Regions from separate parts of the Homo sapiens genome. Here region 2 is linked to region 1. A link means that fine-mapping ties the variant in region 1 to the expression of a gene that starts in the linked region. Tissue or cell type: sun-exposed skin. Region 1 holds a variant in brackets; the other region holds the start of a gene. All regions are shown on one strand. Distances are from middle to middle.

Region 1 (2,770 bases):
ATGTTATCTGTTTTATTGTTACTATTAATAATAATAGCAGCAAAATGATTTATAATTCACTTTCTCCTCTAGTGCTTTAGAAGATAATATAAATTTTAAAAATGCTATTAAAATATTAAACGATTGATATCCTAGAAACAATCTTCAAAGTCAATAGTTTAATATTTTCTTTTTTCAAGTATTATATGGGATAGCCTTTATTTACAGTAACTACTTTGTTGAGTTTCTTAGTGAATGTGAATATAATGTTCTTAATAAACAGTATTGCTGATATTTGTAGAGTTTTAATAGTTTACAAAGTAATTAAAAAGCATATTCATTTGACCTGGTGAAGTTGATAGTTATCCCGTTTTACAGATAAAGAAACTGAGGTTCAAAGCAGTGAACGATTTAACCAGTTTCAGAGTTTATAAGAGACAGGGTGGTGCCTGGTCTTGGTATCAAATCTCTCCTTTCACTTCACTGTAGTGATTTCTTTAGGAGTAGAATGGACTGAATAATATCCGTGGCCATGTCTAGAGTAATTCTGTTGTAATGTCTGTCTGTGTGTTCTTCAGCCAAGTTACATTCAAAGGATTCTGTCACTAAATGTTTGCACTCCCTCTGTTTTCTGGTCTATCATTCTGAATGGAGCTCACAGACTTTTGCAGACAAACAGTAAATTAATTAATGAGAAGGCAGCATACAGCATGAGCTTCTATGTGCTTGGAAAAGGTGGGAAAGAAATAGTTGCTCGATAATAGTAGAAAGAATCTAGGAACCTAGGTTTCACTCCCAGATGCCACTTTCACCTGTATGTATGCTCAAGTAACTTGCCCTCTGCAACCTGTTTATTAACCTGCAAAAAGGAAAATGATAAAACTGTACATGTTTACATCATTGGATTACTATGAGAACCAAATGAGATTATACATGACAACAATAGCAGGTAGTATTTATTGCATGCTTACTATCAACCAGGTACCCTTCCAATTTGTTTCATTCCTTTTATTTAATTTTCATGATAACTTTACGAGAAAGTTAAATGTCCCCATTTATATGTGAGGCCTAGAGAGATTGAATAGCATTCCTAAAGTCACATTTCTGGTTAGTGGTAGAGCCAGGTACAGGAGTTTTATTCCAGAGTACATATTCTTCACCAATGAACATTATTAGGAATAATTATCAAAAAATAAATGCCAGTCAGCTCCCATGGAATTTATACTAGAATAGTGTCATTATATCATAAGAGCACATAAAAAAATTTCAAACTTCATACATCCACTGAAAATAGAGGCTAGGTTTTTATTAAAATTCTACTTTCTTTGTGTTAGAAGATACACCTCTTGTCTCCCAGGCCAGTGCTCTTTCTGGAGTGCCCAAAGACCCCTTCTTTCTTTTATGTTCTGAATCAGTGCCATCAGCTTTCTCTAGTCACTGCTAACTACTGAACAATTCATGGGCTGTGATCAGAAGCACTTACCTGCATAGCAGGTCAGGAATAAGACAAGCAGTCCCAGGACAACTGTCAGGCGAAGTACT[G/A]AGACAGCCATTCTGGTAGCACGGGGTATTCGTGCAGATAAATTGTTCAGATACATGTGAAACAATGCTCCATTTATAGGGCATAGATAGGTGACATCATCTGCTTTGGAATTTAGATTGTTGCACAAGATGTCTGCACAGCTTGCTTTTGGATCTGTACTAATGAGACATACCCTATCATTCAAACCAAACATTTTACATATAGGGAAAGAAAAACCCTCTTGATTTTTAAAATTTGTATCTATAAAGGGTTCTGGAGTGAATCTCTTGAGGCTAGTTTCAAGGCCAGCATTGATAATTAAAGGGATATCAGGTAGAATTGCTCGTCAGTGCCAAGCAGCAGGCAACAAATCAGATTGGCAAGGCAAGCCTACACCCTCCCTTTACACTCTATGCCTTCCCTCGTGCTCTGGGACAATCCCTTGTTCCCACATGGGCATGCCCTTTCACACCCCATGCGTCTGCTCTTGCTCTTCCTTCTTCCTCAGATACCCTCCTCCTTGTCTCCCTTCGGATCACTCCTACGTATTCCTCAGTTCAAATGGTCCTTCTTTGTGATACCTTCATGATAACCACTCCACCCTTCTCCAGGCAGTTTGTTACTTCATCATCTGCCCTATAGCACACTTGACCCCATTGTATAAGAACTAAGTGTTGGCTGGGCGCGGTGGCTCACACCTATAATCCAAGCACTTTGGGAGGCTGAGGTGGGCGAATCACGAAGTCAGGAGTTCAAGACCATCCTGGCCAACATGGTGAAACCCCGTCTCTACTAAAAATACAAAAAATTAGCTGGTCGTAGTGGCAGATACCTGTAATCCCAACTACTTGGGAGGCTGAGGCAGGAGAATCGCTTGAACCCTGGGAGGCGGAGATTGCAGTGAGCGGAGATCACACCACTGCACTCCAGCCTGGGTGACAGAGTGAGACTCTGTCTCAAAACAAACAGAAAACGACAACATAAACTGTCTTATTTATTTTACTTTTATTTTTCTCTTTTTTTTCCATCAACTTTTATTTGAAGTTCCAGGCTACACATGTAGCCAGCAGGATGTGCAGGTTTGTTACATAGGGAAACATGTGCCATGATGATGATTTGCTGCACAGATCAACCTGTCACCTAGGTTTCTTTCTTTCTTTTTTTTTTTTTTTTTTTTTGAGACTGAGTCTCGCTCTGTTGCCAGGCTGGAGTGCAGTGGCGCGATCTCAGTTCACTGCAACCTCCGACTCCCTGGTTCAAGTGATTCTC
Region 2 (2,623 bases), 75 kb before region 1:
TATCAGTTCCCAAAGAGCTATTTCCAACAATTGCATCATATGGACTATGGGTCTAACTCACATTTGTTGAATTTACAGGTAGTCAAAATAGCTAATCTCTATTCCCCCAGAAAATAGCAGAGGTTTTGCTGACAACATATAGGAAATGATAACTGTGGATAAGTTCATGGAAGGGAAAGGGAACTAATATGATAGCAATCAAATAAGGAAACATTCCTGAAAATTAATTTTAATATCATCAATCTTTGAGGTGATCTGAGCAAAGAGGTAGTTCTTTGTATCTAAATGTAATGAAAATTAGTGAGGCATCTATGAGCTTGGAGAATTTCCCCCGGGATAGTCAGAACTTGATGTTGTTGGGGGCCCACTGGCTTTTAGAATCTAGTTGAGTCTAAAAACTGAAGAGCAGGTGCTCATCACAGGCATCTATTTGTATTAATTAACATGCATGAGGAGGGGGAAAGGGAACACTGACTGTTGCCATAAATATTCAGCAAATAAAACAAACAATATTCTTCCTCTTCTTAGCAAAGTGCTGATTTGGCTCTCCACAGGATCCTTCACTACATGAGAGGTGAAGTTGAAAATGTTAACCATTTCCAGTGATAAAAAGGAAACTGATCTTGGCTCTGCGGGTTCAGAGTTGTCTGTCAACATTGTCAAGATGCAGTTGGAGGTATATGTGCACCATCTATTCAAGCAGAATATTTTCTTTCAAAACATTCAAAATGTGTAATGTAAATACACAAAATGCAATTTTTGTATTTCCAGATACTAATAAGAAATACCAGGAATTGAAAATAAAAAATTCCCTTTATATCACATATATTAGCTATTCAGGGATAAATCTGACAAACTATACATGATTCAAGTACACTGAAACCTATACAATAAAAAAATAAATTTTTAATCAGTCAAATTATGCCTTTTATACTGAATAACTGGAAGCCATTTATCTATTTTATGCAATCCCATGAGAATTTAAAATTTGTAATTTGGCCTTACACATTTACAGAATGAGAAGTATACTTAAAGTTAAAATATTTTTACCCTTTTTTCTCTACCATATCCCAACAAAGGGTCAGCCACATCAATAGAGGAAAACCATTTTATTTCTGGGAATTTCTTACTAGTAGAATTGTTTTCCTTATAGTAGGTTAAAAATTCCTCTTAAAAAATAATTCTTACCTGTTGATTTTATTTCATCTCATTAGGTCCAAAACATCTCTCGAAGACTAGACTACATCAAAAGTCTAGAAGATAATGTGCTTCACAAAGCAACAGGTCAAAACAGTTTTATTTAAATTTGAAAAATATGCAACACTTACCAGATAGACTCAACAGGGCCAAGGCACTGAGAAGAAAGATGCCTGTTACCTTCATGGCTGAAGTTCTGCGTCCAGAGGTCAGTTGAAAACTGCACCGCACTTACCACGTCTCTTCAGAAGCCTGGGACTGGAAGGGTCATATGGCAGATGGCAGCAAGGCCCCACCTACTGGGCTATATCACAGATCTCCCTGGTTATTGATTGACTCTGTGTCATAGCCTGGCCTCCAGGTTCTGGGAATGTCACCTGTGTAAGAAAGGTGAAAGGAGCCAGGTGGGCCTGAAACATGCAAGGCAAAGATTCTGTCAGGAAAATAGTTCTAGTGGTTAGTTTGATCCCTAACTCCCTCTGTGGTTGTGGGAAAGTCATTCCCTTCTCAAGCCTGTTTTCTCACCTGTAAGATGAACTCAAAGATCCCTTCTACTCTGTAGTTCTGGATAGATGAGCAGGTATGGATAGCTACTAGAAAGAATTTTATTCCAAGTAGGGTAAAACCTCTCCATTCTTTTTTCCTTTCCTCCACTCTTCCTTTCTTATTCTTCTTTCTCTTTTCTCTATTTTTCCCTCACTCATTCACAAAACCTAAAGTAGCTGATGGAGTGGCAGATGAGAGGGAAAGAGAAAGCAAGAGAGAGAGAGGACTCAGTTCCCTAAAGCGTGTATTCTGGAGCTAGAGGGTGCTTGTTGGAGCCACTTTTGCTGTGCTTCTGTGTATTCATCTGGAAATTAAAATAATAATAACACCTAATTCAAAGGGTTACTCTTTCATCTGAGAATATGTGCTGGGTAAAAGAGAATATGTGCTGGATATCTACCATGTGTTATTAGAAGAGAATTCTCCATCCTCTCTCATGTTTTGGTGTGTCTTATGAGTAGAGGTACTGATAACCTTTGTTTCAGACTATCTTTTTAAGGGTGTTTATATAACAAACGACCTTAGAAAATACGTAATGTCTCCCTCTGCACCAAAAGGCAGGTTTGTTTACTGTTTAGTGTAATAAAGTTAATATCTCCTTCTAGGGCAAAGACCATGTTAATTGCCCTTTACAAAAGATTTCGGGTTTTTAAAAGCTTGGCCTTTCTTTCCTTTAACACACTGTACTTTCCCTGCAACTATCACTTGATGCCCCTTAAATTGGCCTGTGGAAATTGGGGCTTGGGAAACCAGAACAAATTCCAATACTCTGGCTGTTGCTATGGAATAATTAAGTCCCTTTTCTCTGAGCCAGGAGTCTGTGCCTTCTGCCAGAAACCATTATAATGTGGCAGGCTAACTTCTTAGCTTCCAAGTAGGA

Alleles and levels. Positions count from the first base shown, and alleles are read on the strand shown. Sizes are in standard deviations (SD) of each study's normalised expression.
With allele A in place of G in region 1, the expression in sun-exposed skin of the gene that starts at base 1,477 in region 2 is lower (small effect, 0.30 SD a copy in GTEx).

Evidence for each region. PIP is the estimated chance that this variant, and not a neighbour inherited with it, causes the effect. A credible set is the group of variants that fine-mapping cannot tell apart.
Region 2: SPINK1 starts here. The variant in region 1 is the best candidate, but not a certain one, in a credible set for the expression of SPINK1 in sun-exposed skin (GTEx, PIP 0.54).

What each region holds. Positions count from the first base shown.
Region 1 is chr5:147,904,970-147,907,739 of GRCh38, forward strand. C5orf46 (chromosome 5 open reading frame 46) reads right to left here and starts at 1,569. Exons shown (of 4, transcript NM_206966.3): 1 at 1,463-1,569. The coding sequence starts at 1,532. The variant G/A (reference allele first, on the strand shown) is at 1,522.
Region 2 is chr5:147,830,195-147,832,817 of GRCh38, forward strand. SPINK1 (serine peptidase inhibitor Kazal type 1) reads right to left here and starts at 1,477. Exons shown (of 4, transcript NM_001379610.1): 1 at 1,329-1,477. The coding sequence starts at 1,383. It overlaps LOC124901101 (a long non-coding RNA gene), which reads left to right and starts at 311. Exons shown (of 2, transcript XR_007058987.1): 1 at 311-676; 2 at 1,215-1,417.